4 linked regions of the Homo sapiens genome follow. The protein of the gene in region 2 purifies or fractionates together with the protein of the main gene of each other region. This does not show direct contact. Each region holds a gene or a part of one and is shown on either strand. Other genes may lie near its edges.

The links. Proteins that work in one complex are often made in the same cells at the same time.
Region 1: the proteins of FAM162A (region 2) and TM9SF4 fractionate together in Homo sapiens (co-fractionation; one large-scale study listed by BioGRID). This does not show direct contact.
Region 3: the proteins of FAM162A (region 2) and NCAPD3 purify together in Homo sapiens (co-immunoprecipitation; one large-scale study listed by IntAct). This does not show direct contact.
Region 4: the proteins of FAM162A (region 2) and IWS1 fractionate together in Homo sapiens (co-fractionation; one large-scale study listed by BioGRID). This does not show direct contact.

The regions. Positions count from the first base shown.
Region 1 is NC_000020.11:32,139,971-32,144,805, forward strand, and holds part of TM9SF4 (transmembrane 9 superfamily member 4 isoform 1 precursor), read left to right. Parts: intron 1-1,526; coding exon 1,527-1,695; intron 1,696-1,795; coding exon 1,796-1,925; intron 1,926-3,011; coding exon 3,012-3,135; intron 3,136-4,835. UniProt on the Homo sapiens protein: Associates with proteins harboring glycine-rich transmembrane domains and ensures their efficient localization to the cell surface.
Region 2 is NC_000003.12:122,400,833-122,405,667, forward strand, and holds part of FAM162A (protein FAM162A), read left to right. Parts: intron 1-1,927; coding exon 1,928-2,050; intron 2,051-3,425; coding exon 3,426-3,531; intron 3,532-4,835. UniProt on the Homo sapiens protein: Proposed to be involved in regulation of apoptosis; the exact mechanism may differ between cell types/tissues.
Region 3 is NC_000011.10:134,213,376-134,218,210, reverse strand, and holds part of NCAPD3 (condensin-2 complex subunit D3), read left to right. Parts: intron 1-1,112; coding exon 1,113-1,275; intron 1,276-4,835.
Region 4 is NC_000002.12:127,519,398-127,524,232, reverse strand, and holds part of IWS1 (protein IWS1 homolog), read left to right. Parts: intron 1-441; coding exon 442-557; intron 558-4,835.

The DNA of each region.
Region 1 (4,835 bases), on a different chromosome or scaffold from region 2:
CATTTTGCTGATTATTCAGCAAAGTCTATCTTCCTGCTAGGCCATGCACTCTATGAGTACATCTATTCAACTTTGCATCTTTAGGGCTTGGCATGTAGCCAGTACCCAGTACATGTTCACGGATGAATGAATGAATGACTAGATGACTAGGGAGAGTGCCCTGTCGAGCAGATCCACACTGGAGGAAAAGTGCGAGACCAAGTGCATGTGGAGGTGTTAATTAGTCTTCATCTTGTCCATCAATTGTTGAACAGCTCAGAATGAAAGCACCATGGGGTTTGCTTGATAGTCCCTAACTGCTCAGTGCCTGTTAGGGTGACATCTGGCAGCAGTTACTCTGAGGCAAAAGGCACACAAGGGGTGCCACTTCATTGAGTCAAAAGACGTTTTGCCTGAAAATCTCAGGTGCTGGATTTCACCCCACTCCCCTCCCTGCTGGAACCAGGATCTGAAGACACAGAGATAAATAGGAAACAGTCTTAACAGTAACGAGCTCATAGTCAGGTAGGGGAGCCAGAAACATGACTGTATCAGCACATTGTGCAAAGTAAATCCTTGACATAGGAACGGATGCTGATGATAAAAGAGCGTTTGATGCCTGCCTACTCTGTGCCTGCTACTTTATTGGATTGACTTCCTTTATTTCTCACTGTAACCCTGTGAGGTGGATACTGTTATTATCCCATTTTATGGATGAGGACATTGAGGCTCAGTGAGATGGAGTGACTTACCAAGACTGCTAAGGCAGGCAGCCGAGAGTCAGAGTCATCCCTCCACTGCATAATGCTGCCCTCACACAGGGCAGTCAGGGGAGGGAGTGATGGGCTTGTCCTGAAGGGGTTAGGGAGGGCTTCCCAGAGAGAGTGAAATGGAAACTGGGCTTCTGGGGAGGCCAGGAGCATGGGGCAGGGAACTCTAGGAGAAGGAAGCGACTGAGGCCCAGAGGCATAGAAGGATGTGATGCTTGGCTGGGCGCGGTGGCTCACACCTGTAATCTAGCACTTTGGGAGGCTGAGATGGGCAGATCATGAGGTCAGGATATCGAGACCATCCTGGCTAACAGGGTGAAACCCCGTCTCTACTAAAAATACAAAAAATTAGCCGGGCGTGGTGGCATGCACCTGTAGTCCCAACTACTCGGGAGGCTGAGGCAGGAGAATGGCCTGAACCCAGGAGGCAGAGTTCACAGTGAGCTGAGATCGTGCCACTGCACTCCAGCCTGGGTGACAGAGCGAGACTCCATCTCAAAAAAAAAAAAAAAAAAAAAAAAAGGATGTGATGCTTGATGAGTGCTGAGTGCTAAGGGGTCTGGTAGCACTAGAGCCCAAAGGAGGAGGGTGGCAGGTCGAGGTTAGCTGGGACCGTTGGGCGTGAAGCAATGGGAAGGGCATTGGCTGCCAGGCTGAGGCACTGCTGAAGTCCTTGAAAGCCCATGTTTGCCCCGCAGTCCTGTGTCTCTGTGACTCTGCTGACCTCAGCAACCTCAGGGCTGAAGCTCTGAGCTTGATCTGTCTCTCTTACGGCAGGAGAGGTGCTGAGAGGGGACCGGATTGTCAACACCCCTTTCCAGGTTCTCATGAACAGCGAGAAGAAGTGTGAAGTTCTGTGCAGCCAGTCCAACAAGCCAGTGACCCTGACAGTGGAGCAGAGCCGACTCGTGGCCGAGCGGATCACAGAAGACTACTACGTCCACCTGTAAGTCGCCCTGTGCTCCTTGCTGCCTCAGGCTCACACAGGGGAGGACACTGACGGGAGAGGCGGTCGAGAGGGACTGAGTGGGGCCTTCACTTTCCAGCATTGCTGACAACCTGCCTGTGGCCACCCGGCTGGAGCTCTACTCCAACCGAGACAGCGATGACAAGAAGAAGGAAAAAGATGTGCAGTTTGAACACGGCTACCGGCTCGGCTTCACAGATGTCAACAAGGTAGAGTGTCTTTGGCGTGCTCACAGGACCGGGAGCCACACCTCACGAGTCCTGAGCACTTGGGGCCACAGAAAAGGTGGGGCTCGGCCACAGCAAGTTTCTCCAGGTGCCCTGGGCATGATGGTCTGTCAGAGGTCCGAGTGCTCCGGGCAAGTCCCTGGGAGGTGCTACAGGGAGGTGAAGCCACAATTCTTAGGAAGTTAGGTTCCATTTTTGTAAGATTAAAACAACATAAAAAAAAAAACCGTGGAACTTCATCAGTATGTAGGAGAGAGGGCTAAGTAGTGGTCAAGAGCGTGCAGGCTCCCTGGGTTTGAATCCTTCCTCTCCCAGTTACTAGTTGTCTAAGTGACCCTGAGCCTGTGGTTCCTTAGCTGTAAAATGTATGCAGCAGCAGTGGCGGGGTAAATTAGCACATTCGTGTGAGCCCTTCCCAGCACAGCCCTGGAGAATCAGCTAATAATGTGATGATTATAGCCCTGATTCTCTTATCTTTCTTTCTAAACTGAAAGATATTAGTTAGGGAATAAATTACAAAAGTATGTGTTTTGAGGTGCAGCCCCTGTCCCCAAAGGGCGTCTGTCCTAACTGGGAAGAGAACCGACAGTGGGAGGCTCTAAGTCTCCAGTCCCAGCTGCCTTTCACTGGCCATTAATTGCAGGCGAGGTCAGAGGGAGCTCCTTTTACACTCAGGTTGTCACAGAGGAGGTGGGCCATGAGAAGTTGGTGGGCTTTTGCTGAGTGGAGTTGGGGGTGGCATTCTAGTTGGAGTGATTGCAGGGTAGAGACTGGTTCATGGGGCGGTGGGCACAGGGGAGTCTAGGTGAACTCATGTGACTTAGATGATTACACCCAGTTGTATCAGGGTCAGATGATAGAAGGCCTTGAATGCCAGACTTTGAGAAATGGGCTTTTGTCTGATAAGCTGCAGGGAGCCCTTGAAGAGCTTCTGAGTAGGGGAGTGATGAGAACAGTGTTTTAGGAAGGTTGGTACAACCAGGCATGCTGGGTGAGGCAAGGGCCCTAATACCTGGAGAGTATCCCTAAGTGATGTTCTGTTGTGCTTTCTCTGTTGCTGTGTTTCAGATCTACCTGCACAACCACCTCTCATTCATCCTTTACTATCATCGGGAGGACATGGAAGAGGACCAGGAGCACACGTACCGTGTCGTCCGCTTCGAGGTGATTCCCCAGAGCATCAGGCTGGAGGGTGAGTGGGGAGGTGTGGCCGGAGGGGCAGGGCTGGATGGGCCTGGGCTTCTCCACGCAGGGTCTTCGCACTCTTCTCCCTCCTGAGCTGGCCGATGGGCTCGGGTGTGGCGTGTGGGCCCAGCCAAGGTAGGATCATGGTATTCTCATTAGAGAAGACGGGGTGTGGGGGCAGCTGACAGCTGCAGTGTCACGGGCTAGACACCTTACTAGTTTACCCCTTCCCAGCAACCCCAGGAGGTACGTGATGATTACAAAGGAAGAACTAGAGGCTCAAAAGGAGCTAGTGACTTGGCCAAGACCAAACAGCAAGTTGGGGCTTTGTTGGGCCTCCTCACAAGAACCAGCCAGCTCACCCTGGGTTGAGAACAAGGGGCCAGGGTACAGACAAAGCCTGTAGGCAGCAGGTTTCTTCGTTCCTCTCCCGCTGTGTGAGTGATTGGCATAAACTAAAATTTGCCCAGGGTCAACAGGTGTGCGGGAGTTTGAGAGTCCAGCACAGTCCTGATGGGCCTCACAGGAGCTGGTCCGGCTTTGCCTCACCTCTTGGCCCTTGATCATCACAGTGTGCTTTTTAATTAAGCAGCATGCCCAGGATTTTGACCATGTTGGTGGTATTTGGACTTTTTTTTTTTTTCCACTGTGGAACTTAGTGTTCAAACAAAATTAGACACAGAAGTCCCAAACATAGATCCTGCCCTTCAAGAGCTCCATAGCACATCTCCCCTGGGAGCTTCCCGAGCGCAGTTCTACGTTTGCATGTGTGACGCTTTTGAGGCCACCTGCTCCCCCACTGGCTCTTCAAGCTTAGAGTCTCCCTGTCTCCTTTTCTTACCATTTTATCTTTTTTTTTCCCCCCAAGACAGAGTCTTGCTCTGTCACCCAGGCTGGAGTGCAGTGGCGCGATCTCCGCTCACTGCAACCTGCGTCTCCTGGGTTCAAGCAATTCTCCTGCCTCAGCCTCCTAAGTAGCTAGGATTATAGGCGCCCACTACCGCACCTGGCTAATTTTTGTATTTTTAGTAGAGACGGGGTTTCACCATGTTGGCCAGGCTGGTCTCAAACTCCGGACCTCGTGATCTGCCTGCCTTGGCCTCCCAAAGTGCTTGGATTACAGGCGTGAGCCACCGCGCCCAGCTCACCATTTTATCTTAAGCACCTAGCACAGTACCTGGCCCATAGTTGGTGCTTATTATATGTTGTTGGTTGAATGAGTAGATGGATAACAGGATGAACAGATGAGCAAATGAATGGAGAAAACATCTGAATGATTGATCACGAAAGTGCCAGGGCTTTAGAGATAGACTAAATGAATGAGTAGGCATGATGGAATGGATCAAGGTTTTATGTTGAATGGGACTGGCTGGATGGTAGGTGAACGTTTGAATTGAGTGAAGGAACACTGACTCAGGGAGGAACTCCGACTCAGGCCCCTCCCTTCCCCCATGCACAGGCCTCTCTGCAGCCCCTAAGGACCTTCAGAAAGTCAGGGCTCTGAGGAATAATTTTCAAAAACCATTGTTGGCCAGGCATGGTGGCTCACACCTGTGATCCCAGCGCTTTGGGAGGCCAACACAGAAGGATTGCATCAGGCCAGGAGTTCAAGACCAGCCTGGGAAACATAAAAGGACCTTGTCCCTACAAAAAAATGTCTTAAAATTAGCCAGGTGTGGTGACACACACCTGTAGTCCCAGCTACTC
Region 2 (4,835 bases):
AAAAAAAAAAAGACTGAGAATATCGTTACTATATAGAGATGTTCATTGGGGAGAAAGTCAATAGAGTCTTGAATATTCTCGTGATGTGCAGAATAATTGTGTAGAGATTATTTTAAATCATAAATACATCTTATATCTTAATATCTTAAATATGTTTTGTTTTCCATATATACTTAAGATATTTCTATGAAAATGTCTTATCCTAATATTTGCCAGCAAGAGTCTTGTGTAACCTTTTGAAAGTTGAGTAATAACTGTAATGCTGCTTTGCTTATTTTTCATAAAACAGTGATTTTCTTTAATATATCTGAAAATGCATTTTTCATTTATTTTTTCTTATTATTATATGTATATATCAAGTGTGGCATTTGAGAGTCTGTTGATAAAATTTACAAAAGTAGAATTACAATTTTATGTTAATGATGAAAGAATGACTTATAATATTCACCTGATTGTATCTCTTATTTTGTGTGCTTTTGTTAAACATATGTCGATTTATTTTGCCAACATGATTATATAGACAGAGAACTCCTTTTCTTTCAGGTTGGTTCATGTGATCCTGGTTAATGGAACATAAGTGAGATTTTATGGGTGACAGGGAGAGAGATCAGGCTTGACTTGAGAGCACGTGGGAAAAGAAGGGGGCTATCTCTTCGCAAAGATTTAAGTATCTTATAAGAACTGTTTGCCAGTGCAATTATGAGTAAGTGTATTTGTGCCTAATTTTTATTTTTTAAAAGCTCAGGTGATTATAATTTCATCTGTGAAATGTTGGAAGTATAGTCTGATTAAAATAGTATATATCTAAAAAAAAAAAATAGCCATTCTGGCTGGTTGTGAGATGGTATTGCATTGTGGTTTTGATGTGCATTTCTCTAGTGATCAGTGATGTTACTTTTTCTTCTGTATGCCTGTTGGCTGCACGTATGTCTTCTTTTGAAAAGTGTCTGCTCACGTCCTTTGCCCACCTTTTAATGGGCTGGTGTTTTTTTTCTTGATAATTTGTTTAAGTTCCTTATAGAGCTGGATATAGACCTTTGTCAGATGCATAGTTTGCAAAAATTTTGTCTCATTCTATAAGTTGTCTGTTTGTTGATAGTTTCTTTTGCTGTGCAGAACCTGTTTAGTTTCTGCACAGTAAAAGTTAAATTTATTAGATCCCATTTGTCCATTTTTGCTTTTGTTGCAGTTGCTTTTGGCATCTTCATCATGAAATCTTTGCCCATTCCTATGTCCAGAATGGTATTGCCTAGGTTGTCTTCCAGGGTTTTTATAGAGGTTAAATGGTATTTATTAGCCATATAGCGATCATTGTTGAAAATGGGTGATGAGTATATAGGGGTTCGTAATGCTACTATCTGTGCTTTGAGTTTAAATTTTTAAAATAAACTATATATATTATATATATAGTTTTAAAGTTATATGTAGTTCAAAACTACATCTAAAATTGATTTCTAATTAAGGACTTGTGGCTTGCAAGGAGCAAGGCTTTCTAGAGTCACTTGCTGACCACTGCAGCCCCCTAACCAGTTTATCAGCATCGTATTGGCAACTTGGTTACCTAGTTTATCACTTTTGGGAGGTTACTAATCTTTACTTAAACAGCCCTGATGCCATAATACATAATATTGCCACCAGAGCCATTGTTATGATAAGACACATGTGGGAAGTACTTATTTAAAATTTACAGCTGATAACATTTTTATGTTGTAAATTCCTAATTTCCTAATCAATAAAACATTTATATTTTAAAACAGCATCAAGCATAGCACTTTAAATATACTATGTGTATCTTACATATAGTAAATTCATTTCCTAAATGAACTACCTTTTATAAATGAAACGTAACTTGCGGGTATTTCTTATTTTGAGAAAACATCACATTTTCTTTCTTTCTTTCTTTGAAACATTTTCCTCTCTTTTTTAGGAAGCTGTTTTAGGTTATGTGAAAGAGATGTTTCCTCATCTCTAAGGCTTACCAGAAGCTCTGATTTGAAGAGAATAAATGGATTTTGCACAAAACCACAGGAAAGTCCCGGAGCTCCATCCCGTAAGTTTTTATTTTTTCTATTTATGGAGTTGGTAGCTCCCAAAGAGTAGGAAAACTTGGAATCAAAAGAACCCAAAAGAGAAGAGGTTCCTATATCATACCCTCCCATGTAGAGAGAACACATTGTGTTCACATTGTGCATGTGCACATGACCAATATGAGCACAACATGGGAGGCCTGAGGGAGGCCCATGTTCCTACATCATACCTCCCATGTTTTACTCATATGCAGGCCCATCTTCCTACATCACACTTCTCATGTTTTACTCATACGTAGGCCCATGTTCCTACATCATACCTCCCATGTTTTACTCATATGCAGGCCCATCTTCCTACGTCACACTTCTCATGTTTTACTCATACGTAGGCCCATGTTCCTACAGCAGACCTCCCATGTTGTATTAATATTGGTCATGGGCACATGCACAGTGGTTTCTTCATTTTCAGCATTTGTCATTTTCATCTTCTTGCCTGTAGGGTTGGACTGGAGCTTTCTGTAGGAGAATGGATGCACCAAAGTAAATAGTAGTCCAGAAATTATGTTTTAAAGAACTCTAAAGATGAACCAAATTAAGATATTATGCGTTAGGTAAAATATAAGCAGGGCCTTCTCCTTATCACCCTCACTGGCTCTCCCTTTGCACTGATTTTTATCTCTATTCCCGACTTATTAATGAAATGACTCAGATGGCATATATTCCCTTCAGAGTCAGCAAATCTTTAAGTAGTATTCATGCTCTTTCCTTCCCCAACTGGGTCTTTTCCCGTCTTCTTTTAGTTACAATACTGCTGTTGTCTTAGTCATCCAAGTTTGAGGTTCTTCGTGACTCCTTCCTCTTTGTCTTAACCAGTCTCCACATTCTTTCAGTCATCCTCAGACTGACCTCATCTCTCTTTCCACTGCGACAACTCTGGTTCAGAGAATATCCGCTCACCATGGTATTACAGGCTCCCATTTGGACTTTTTGCCCACTCTACCGTGTCCCCCTTTTCTGTCTCCATCCATTGTACAGATAATAAGCCTTCCTAAAACATTAGTTTCTTCCTTGTTTCAAAATGTACAGTAGTTCCCAATCAAGTCTAAACCCCTTAGCCTGACATTCAAGATCTGGTAAAATCTGATTGTACCTTACAAACTTTTTCTTAGTCTGCTGAAGTCAGACAAGCTCCTCACCGTTTCCTTGGGATTTTATAATCTTATTTGGAAAATGAAGCATCCTAAGAAATTCCATTCAAATAAAGTTCTAATTAACTTGAGGTTTCTCAGTGTTTCTGTTTAGTGACTAGTTAAAAAGCACTAATACCATTTTTCTGTTGTTAAATTTGAGAGTTATAATCTCAAACACATAAAATTTCTTGTCTGGTTTTTCTCATAGGCACTTACAACAGAGTGCCTTTACACAAACCTACGGATTGGCAGAAAAAGATCCTCATATGGTCAGGTCGCTTCAAAAAGGAAGATGAAATCCCAGAGACTGTCTCGTGAGTGCTGAATTTAGTATTACAAGCAGCTTTCATTTCTCACTGATCTAAGGGAAAAGCAATGCCTCTGAGTTCCAACTGTTTAAAACTTTTCAACCAAATTTGAAAACATTTTTCACTTTTCCAAATGTTTTATCTTTGGTAAGTACTTGGAATATAAACAATGCTAGAAAACCTGTGTCTTATCATTGTTAAGTTACACAGTGACTGGTGAAGAACTGTCAGGTACTCTGAAGTCAATTGATTATTTGATTTCATCCCCTGGCTACAGAAGTGTGACTTTTTTAAAGTTTGTTTTTAATCTAGGTATATAAATTAAGTACCATTGACAATGACTGTATTCCCCCAAATCCACTTAAGTACTCAACCTTAGGTGTAAAAGTATTTAATTGCAATATTCTGGAATTCAGGAAAGAGTGCTTCCTGTCACCAACTTCCTTAAACCTAAGGGAAGGGATCTTGGCTGGGATCATGGAACTTTTTCAGAGTTTGTAGATGATGAGTGCAGGTTCCTCCAACCCAGTTTCTCAACTCAGTACTATTGATATTTGGGGCTTGATAATGCTTTGTGGCAGGGGGGTGTCCTATTTGTTGGAAGATGTTTGGCAGCATCCCCGGCTTCTGCCCCCTACATGCCCGTAGCATTGCGGCAGTGCTGACAACCAGAAATGTCTCCAGACACTGCCAAATGTCCAAGGGGCACGAGCGGGGTGGGAATCTCCCCTGGTTGAGAACCAGTGCCCTAGCCTCATGTTAAAGACCCTGACTGGCTGGCATCTTGGCTAAAAAGAGATTCTGAGAAATAGATGTCATCTCCTCTGTGAGGCATCATCCTATTCAGGGACAGGGACTTCAGACAAAGCTCGTGGAAGTTCCCTGTCAGCAAGAAACTATTCCTGGATCTTCTGGTCTCTGGTTTCAAGTCATGATTGAAAAAGATCTGAGCTCATTCAGGATTTCTTTCCCAGGGAAATATGTAGTATTTACTTTCTGTTTACAACAGCTTTAATAGAGCTTTTCTGCTTCTGCCAGTCAAATTGATAGCACATTACTTTAACTAGAATTATTTCAGCAGGAAAGCCCTGGTTTTTCTTAGCTCAAGTCATGTATTCTTCTGGGAAATAAGAGAATACTGGAAATAACAGTGACATCAGGTTCTTGCCTATGCCCTAATTCTTCCTATACCAGCAGAAAATAAGCTGGTAGACACCCATGGCCTTAACAGATGCTGTATAGGCTTTGCTATAGAACACCTTCCTCAGTCTGCCTAATAGTTGGTTCCAAGATCCCCTCAGGCCCAAAAT
Region 3 (4,835 bases), on a different chromosome or scaffold from region 2:
GTGATCGATCACCCTCGTGTGTGAAGTGGAGGTGCAGGTGGCATTAGGAATGAGGATGTGACACTGTAAAGTTAGGAGATGATTTCTTCCCCCCCCCCCCTTTTTTTTTTTTGAGACCAGGGTCTTGCTCTGTCACCCAGGCTGGAATGCAGTGGCACAGTCAAAGCTTACTGCAGCCTCAACTTATTGGGCTCACATGAGCCTCCCACCTCACCCTCCTGAGTAGCTGGGACTACAGGTGTGTGCCACCACGCCCAGCTAATTTTTTATTTTTTGTGGAGACAAGGTCTTGCTTTGTTGCCCTGGCTGTTCTCAAACTCCTGGGCTCAAGCAGTCCTCCTGCCCTGGCCTCTCAAAGTGCTGGGATTACAGGCATGAGCCATTGTGCCCAGTGGAGATGATTTCTCCCGTAAGTTTTTTAGTTAAGGAAAGGAGAGTGCTCTGCTCACTTGAATTTTGTGGGCCTTTTTTTGTTACGATACTCAAGGATAAACCATATTTAGTTCCTGCTATGTTTAGGTTATTAAAATAACCCATTTCTTCTTCATGTGTTTAGTAGGAGAAGACATGGAATGAAGATAGAATTAATACAATTGTGGTTTCTTTTCTAGGGTTTATCTCCTTTACCTGGGCCATTTCCGAGATCTCTTTCATTTCCTGCTCCCATTGCCTGCAATCTGCAGAACATTTAAATAAAGGGCTCTGATTTCCTCAGTTAGTAATTATTGGTAAAGGAATTTGAGTTCCTTTTAATATAAATAGAGGGATAACTTTCCTGAATAATCACTAATATATGGTGTCCCAAAAGTCTTAGTGTAGTTTTAAGCTATAATTTCTGAAGTATATATGCTACAAACTTAACAAAAAATTCTTTTGAAAGTTTAATTATTTAAATATGTTATATACATATTTATCTTGGTAATTTTGAATAATATACCTTTAATTTTGATATTTTGTTTCAGTCCCTTTGAAGATGGTAAACATTTAGCAGTAGGAGCCAGGCTACTCTATTCCTCTTTTTGTAAGGCACCAAGAACTTACAAAAATCAAATAATAGGAAATGTTTCCATTTCTCTAATGACTGGCTTTTGTGATTTGCGGTCTCCCCACAGAGTATCTGGACCTTCTTCATTGAGAACAATGTTTCCCATAGTACACTGGTGGCATTGTTCTATCATTTTGTTCAAATAGTTCATAAGAAGAATGTCAGTGTACAGTATCGAGAATATGGCCTTCATGCCGCTGGGCTTTACTTTTTGCTACTAGAAGTACCAGGTATGTAGACCTGATATGATAGGATAAATCTTCTGTCATTTTTTTCTTTCTACAGTTTTCAATTCTTATACTTTGTTTCTTGTTTCTTCACTTATAAATGGGGCAGTGCTAACCCATGGCAGAGAGTTGTTGCGAGGAGCAAGTCTCTAAAGTACATGGCATGTTATAGGTCTTGGAAAACCTTCCCCCTTTTTTTTTTCATCCGAAGTTATGCTATCTATAAACTAATAAAAATAGTCTGAGAAGGAGTGCAAGAGTTCCACGCCCACCCTCCACCACGGCCGTCTAAAATTCTGATATTGCCCTTTCTTCTCATGATTCCTTGTCTAGACTGAGAAATACTGCTGTGGGGAGTCATTGCTTTTTACCTCTCCGATGTTGGTATTGAAAAATAGATTAAAACCATTCTAATCAAGAAAGCAGGAAAGCAGCTAGTAATACTTGAAGGAGAGCACTGACCAGGAGTCTGTTTTCGAGCACTGTTTTACTTGATTGTCAGAGCACTGAGGAGGCTGTTCCTCCTATGACAGTGAAATCCATTCTCTTCCCTACTCCAAACACAGGGTGAGAGAGAGTGGAACATAGAGATTGAGTCAGATAACCTGAAGTTCATATGGAAAAGAGAATGGCAAGATCAGTCACCTTGCTGCTTATCTTTGTTTAATTACAAATGTTTAGCAAAGGATTTATTCCATGTGATCTGGGAATGGGCAAAAAGGTCTTATATTTAAAGCCCTGAACATTGATTTGTGTTGTTGTTAATGCTCCCATCATGACTTTGGAAATGAGTAAGTTCCTAAAGGATTTTGTTGCTAAGCAGTGTCTCGGTTGTAACTAGGCCCTCTCTCAAAAAAGTAGTGGTTTTAGAAACCCAGTTTCACTCTCCTCTTGCCAGATGCAGTTTCTTCTGATTAAGGTTGAGATTTATGCCAGAGCAAAGAGGTGGCTGTTACTAATTGCGTGGGCCACTTGCAGCTTTCCAGCAAGCCGTATTCCTGCCAGTTACCTTCTGTTTTTAAATGTTTCGGGTTTATGATTGGGATGCTGTCGATACTTAACATTCGATCACAGTATATTCTTTTTCAGGATCGTTTTGGTTGTTCTGCCTCCCTTGCATTTCCATGTGAATTTTAGGATCTGTACGTGAATTTCTGCAACAATAAAAAAGCCAGCTGCGGTTTTGACAGGGATTGCATTGAAACTGTAGATGAGTTTGTGAAGTATTGCCAATTTAACAACATTAGGTCTTCTAATCCCTAGCCGCAGGATGTCTTTCCATTTATTGTAGATCTTCTTTAATTTGTTTCAATAATGCTCTATAATTTTTGGTGCGCAACTCTTGCATCTCCCCTTTAAAATTTATTCTTAAGTGTTATTTTCAATGCTAGTGTAAATGAAATTGTTTTCTTAATTTTATTTTGGTTTATTAGTACTGTATAGAAGCAAAATTGATTTTGATTATTGATCTTCTATCCTAGAACCTTGCCAAACTCATTTGTTGGTTCCAACAGGGTTTTCTTTGTGTAAGATCATGTCATCTGTGAATAGACACAGGTTTACTTCTTTCTTTCTAGTCTGGGTTCTTTCTATTTATTTTTCTTACCTATTTGCCCTGGCTAGAACCTCCAGTACAGTGTTGAATAGAAGGGGAGCGTGGGGATCCTTGTCTATTCCTGATCTTAAGGGGAAAGCATCCAGTCTTGCCTTTAGGTATGATGTTACCTGTGGGTTTCTCAGGATGGCCCTTATTAAGTTATTATTCCTAGTTTACTGAGTGCTTCATTATGAAAGGCTGTTGGATTTTGTCATTCGCTTTTCTGCACTTGTGAAGTGCTCATGTGGTTTTTGTTTCTTATTCTAATATAGTATATTACATTGGTTGATTTTCACATATTAAACCAATTTTGTATGACCTTGGTCATGGTGTATAATCCTTTTTATATGTTGTCAGAGTGTTTGCTAATATTTTGTTGAAGGTTTTTTGTCTATATTCATAAGGGATATTCTTTTTTTGAGATATTTTTGTCTGGTTTGAGTATCTGGGTATCTTGGTAATACCATTTTCATAGAATAAGTTACATAGTATTCCCTTCTCTTCTGTATTTTGGAAGATTTTGGGTTTTCTTTTTTCTTCAGATGTTTGGTAGAACCCACTAGTGAAGTCATCTGGGCCTGGAGTTTTTTGAAAGAAGTTTATGTTTGTAGAATTTCTAGTGATCTCCTCTCATGCCTGATGTTGGTGATTTGTATTTTGTTTTTTCTTGATCAATCTAGATCGAGATTTATTCATTTTACTGTTCATTTTGGAGGGCCCCCTTTTGATGTCATTAATTAAATTCTGTTGTTTGTCCCTTTCTTGTTTCATTGATTTCTGGTCTTATGTCTACGATTTCCTTTCTTCTTACTTTGGGTTTAATTTGCTCTTATTCTGACTTTTTAAGGTAGATGCTTAGATCTTTGTTCTCACATGCATTTCTTTGTTTCTAATACAAGTATTTAATACTATAAATGTCCCTCCAGGTACAGCTTCATCTGCATCCCACAAATTTCGATGATATGTTTTTACTGTTGTGCAGGCCAAAGTGATTTTCAAATTTTTCTTGTCATTACTTACATCTCTGAGTTGTTTAGTAAATTGAGTTTATTTTCCAAATATTTGAACTTTCCTGAAATCTTACTGTAATTGAGTTTTAATTGGTGGGATCAGAGAACATACTTCATATGATTATGATACTTTTAAATTATTTAGTTGTGCCTTTTTTTTTAATGGACTTAGAGTCTAATTTGGTGAATCTTCCATTTGCACTTTAACAGAATGTGTACCTTGCCTTTGTTGGATCTAGTATTCTGTAAATGTCAGTTAGGTCAAGTTGGTTACAAATGTTATTCAAGACTTACATATGCTTCCTGATGTTCTGTTTATTTGTTCTATCTGTTGTTGAGAGAGGAATGTTGGAATCTCTAAGAATAATTATCAGTTTATCTATTTCTCCTCTCAGTTCTTTTAACTTAAGATATTGTGAAAGTCTGACGGATACAGATGTATTTATGATTGTCATGTCTTCCTGATGGATTGGTCCTTTTAGTATTATGTTATGTCCTTGTTTGTCTGGTTATATTCCTTGTCTTGAAGTCTACTTTGTCTAATACTAAGATAGCCACTATAGTTATCTTAAGATTTGTCCTTGGTTGGTACATCATTTCTCATGCTTTTATTTGTAACCTATCCATATGTTTATATTTAAAGGTTTTCTTGTAGACTGCCTGTCACGTGGTCATGGCTTTTCTTTTTCTTTTTTTTTTTTTTAAGAGAGACGAGGCCACACACGGTGGCTCACACCTGTAGTCCCAGCACTTTGGGAGGCTGAGGCGGGCGGATCACTTGAAGTCAGGCATTTAAGACCAGCCTGGCCAACATGGTGAAACCCCGTCTCTACTAAAAATACAAAAATTAGCCGGATATGGTAACACGTCTGTAATCCCAGTTACTCGGGAGGCTGAGGCAGGAGAATCGCTTGAACCCAGGCAGTAGAGGTTGCAGTGAGTTGAGATCGTGCCAC
Region 4 (4,835 bases), on a different chromosome or scaffold from region 2:
TAGGCAGTGTTCTGGGCTCCAGAGATTTAGCAGTGAACCAAAATCCCTATTCTTGTGGCATTTTCTTTCAGGTGAAGAAGACCCACGTTAAACAAAATAACTTCAGGTAGTATATTAGAAGGTGATAAATGCCATGGAGAGAAAGACCCAATTTTAACATGAAGTTGAAATAAATTGTTGACTTGGTGTTTAGTGTTGTTTCTTAAGCTACAAATTGTTTTTATGGTGTAGTTTTGCTGCCACGTATTTCACAGTACATGTTATGCTTGTTGGTGTTTGTATGAGTATTGTATTACCTTATTCAAAATATTAGCAACTTTAGTTAATGCTTCCTCAGTGGTAACTTTTGCACTTACGTTATTCTTGATTCAGTGTGTTCATTTCACTGTAGATGTCATTCATCTTACACCATAAGTTGGTTTTTGTTTTGTTTTTAATCAGATGATGGTGGTGCTACCCCAGTACAGGATGAACGGGATTCAGGGTCAGACGGTGAGGATGATGTAAATGAGCAACACTCCGGATCAGACACTGGAAGTGTAGAACGTCATTCAGAGGTATTGGCTAACCAACATCTTTGGGAGGGCTTTTCCCTTGCGTTCTGTGAGATCTGTTATATTATAGGAGTTACAGAATCTCTGTGACAGAGTTTAGGGTTTAATCTCTGAGAGTAAAGGAGCATAAGTTAATAGAAAACCGCTTGAAAAATAAATAGGGATGGTCTGGTTACTGTTGAAATCACAGTGAAATATGTTCTGATTGGGTCACATTTCAAATGTTAGGCAGTTTTCAACTGTGCATATTGATTCAGAAAATGGGCCCGGCCTTTGATATTTGACTAAGTTTCCCTATTCTGCAATAATGTCATAGTGGGGCATTGAGCATTTGCAATCTGAAGAAACACCACTTGAAATAGAAAGTTATGGGGGTTATCACCTGTCAACATTTATGTCAGCATTTGCCCTTCTGATTTTGAACTGTTACGGTGTATATAATGTATGTAATAATAATGCTTTTTTTTTTGAGACAGGGTCTGACTCTGTAACACAGGCTGGAGTACAGTGGTGAGACCTCGGCTCACTGCAGCCTCTGCCTCTGGGCTCAAGCTATCCTCCCACCTCATAGCCTCCCGAGTAGCTGGGACTACAGGCACAGGCCACCACGTCCAGCTATTTTTGTTTTCTTGGTAGAGATGGGGTTTCACCATGTTGGCCAGGCTGATCTCAAACTCCTGACCTCAAGTGATCTGCCCACCTCAGCCTCTCAAAGTGCTAGGATTACAGGCGTGAGCCACCACACCTGGCCTGCAAATATAATTTTAAGAGCTGTTTTTGTTTAATAATATGTAATAGTATTGGGTTTTGTGTACATTTTAACGTATTTGCTCTAATACATAAATATTTCAGAACTGCTTTATTTTCCTTTCTGTTTATACATCATGTTAACAAGATAAAATTGGGAAATTTTTCAATAAGTTCGCCGTAAGTCTTTGGTAGATACGACTGAAACAAATAGGAATGATAAAGATGCAAAGATTTAAGAACTTTCTATGCCTTATATTTTTCTTGATTACACATATGCAGAAAATTGTCCAATTTTTAGTAGGTGTGATTAGAGATTATATTGACTCTGTCCTTTGACAGCAACATTAGCATATCATACATTCAACAGGTATTTATTGAGCACCTAATATGTGTCAGACTTTTTGCAGGTGCTTTGGACTTATCAGTGACTAGAAGTTAAAATCCTTCTCTTCTTAGGTTTGTTTTTCCAGTAGGAGGAGAAAGACATTAAGCAATAAACATTTTTTTTTAATTGTGTAGTCTGCTAGAAGATAACAAATGCTGTGAAGAAAACAGATAATTAGAACAAAGGATGGAGGGCAGGCTTTGGTGTTAAATAGGGACCATATAGGTCTTTTATTAAGAAAGTGACATTTGAACCAAGGTGTGAAGGGAGGCAAAGGAATAGCCGTGTGGATATGGACGTTTAGGGGAAGAACATCCCTGGCAAAGACCCCAAGGTGAGAGTGTGCTTGATATCTTCAAGGAGCCAGTGGAACTGAAATGGGGTCATTAAGGGGTAGGGGAGGTCAGAGAACTAAATGCGGGTGTGGAAAAGGCTCATCTTTTATATATTTTGATGTCACTCAGGTTTTTTCTGTGCTTTTAAACATTCAGAATAAATTCCAATATTTTAATTGATAGTTGGAAGTTACTTAATAATGTATATGTTGTTACAGCCAGTGCATTTAGTGCATGATATTTTAAGTTTCCTCTTTGGAAACAGCATTCAGAGATTAATCATGGTCAGTTTAGAGCCCAGTAGGGTAGTCATCTCATGGCCTCATGGTGCAGTTACAAGTTCAGGTTACCCTAAGCATCTTTGTTTTTTTATAATATGGATTCTAAATAAATAAGTGTGGCTGTTTTTGAAAATTTGGAAATCACAGACTGTCCCAGACTTAAACTATAATTTGACTTAAAAATTTTCAACTTTGCGATGTTGCAAGTGCTGTATGTATACTTTGAGTACCCATACAACCGTTCTGTTTTTTCACTGTATTCAGTAAATTACATGAGATACTCAACATTCTATTATAAAATAGGTTTTGTGTTGGGTGATTTTGTCCAACCGTAGGTCTTACCTCTGTAAGTGTTTGGAGCACATCTAAGGTAGGCTAGGCTAAGCTGTGATGTTTGGTAGATTAGATGTATGAAATGCGTTTTTGGCTTAATTATATTTTCAGCTTACTATGGGTGTATCAGGCTGTAACCCCATAATAAGTTGAGGCACTCCTGCATCTGTGAAGTTTAAAGAAAAAAATTAAAACCAGCATAGTCCAACTACAGAAATGACTATGAGCCTTTTCACATTATTTATCCTGCAGTTTCATTCTGTCCCAGGTATATGACGTCTATATATTTTAACTTTACTTGAGATGTTATTATATATATTTTGTGTCTTTCTATGTATATATTTTGAGACAGAGTCTCACTCTGTCCCAGGCTGGAGTGCAGTGGCATGATCTTGGCTCACTGCAACCTCCGCCTCCCAGGTTCAAGCAATTCTCCTGCCTCAGCCTCCAGAGTAGCTGGGATTACAGTGCGCTACCACGCCTAATTTTTAGTATTTTTAGTAGAGACAGGGTTTCACCATGTTGGCCAGGCTGGTCTCAAACTCCTGACCTTGTAATCCACCGGCCTTGGCCTCCCAAAGTGCTGGAATTACAGGTGTGAGCCACTGTGCCCAGCCTATGTATTATTTTTTATCTCTTCACTTAAGATGATACTTTTAAGTGTTTCCCCACGTCATTAAAGATTCTCAATAAGCGTAATGTTTAATGGTTTCACAATATGGATGCAGCATCACTTATTCAGCAATTTTCTAATTGTTGTCATTTATGCTGTTTAGCTATTGTATTAAATAACTGAAGCTGCCCTGAAGATTTTTGTACATAAACATTTGTGATCATTTTTTATTGTTTCCTTAGAAAGCTGCCAGGAGAATTAACGAGATTAGAGACTAAGACATTTTAAGGCTCTTCATAGAAATTCCTCTCCAGGAAGGTTATGGTAATTTGCTAAACCACTAGTACTTCAAGAGTGCCAGTTGTACTGTGTATAAGTGTTGAGTTCTGTATTAATGTTCTTTTGCCTGTTTAAAATGGCTTTTAAGAAGACATTTTGTTTTCTCATTAAACATTTTTTTTTAGAAGTAATGGGATGTTAAAAGAGTACGGTTGCATTAAATGAAGCAGTGCAAAGGCCGGGCGTGGTGGCCCTTGCCTGTAATCCCAGCACTTTGGGAGGCCGAGGTGGGTGGATCATGAGGTCAAGAGATCGAGACCATCCTGGCCAACATGGTGAAACCCCGTCTCTACTAAAAATACAAAAATTAGCCAGGCATGGTGGTTTGCGCCTGTAGTCCCAGCTACCTAGGAGGCTGAGGCAGGAGAATCTCTTGAACCCGGGAGGTGGAGGTTGCAGTGAGTAGAGATCACACCACTGCACTCCAGCCTGGCGACAGAGCGAGACTATGTCTCAAAAATAAAAACAAAACAAAAAAAATGGGGCAGTACAAATTACAGGTCCAAAGCCTGAAAGATACTAGTTTCCTCTTGAGGCTGTAACAACTTGATACAACTTGGTGGCTTAAAACAACGAAAAATTATTATCTTATAATTCTGGAGGTCAAGTCCAAAATGGGTCACACTGTACTAAAATCAAGGTGTCCCAGGGCTGTGTTCTTCTCTGAGGGAAGATACATTTCCTTGCTTTCTTCAGTTTGTAGTGGCTACCTGCATTTCTTGGCTGAGGCTCCTTCCTCCATCTTCAAAACCAGCAGCATAGCATCTTCACAACTCATTTTCTGACCTCTTGTTTCTGTCATCATATCTCTCTCTTACTCTGACCTTCCTGTATCCCTCCTGTAAGAACCTTTGTAATTATAATTGGGCCTACCTGGATAATCCAGGGTAATGTCCCTATTTCAAGGTCCTTACCTTAATTACATTTGCACAGTCCCTTGCATGTAAAGTGACATATTCACAGGTTCCAAGGGTTAGAACGTGGACATTTTTGAAGGGCCATTATTTTGCTACCATAAGATGGTACTCACAGCATAATTTTCCCAATAATGGTATTTTTTTTTTTAAACCCCTCATCTGTATTTTAGAATTTAGGCTAGTATTTTTTTTAAATTCATTTCACCTATAGTATTTACTCAGTGCACACACACGCACACACACACACACACAATCTTTAAGATAGTGGTCAGTATAGGAAATACTGATAAGATTTTGAAGACCAGTAACTTTTGCAGATTTCTTAACC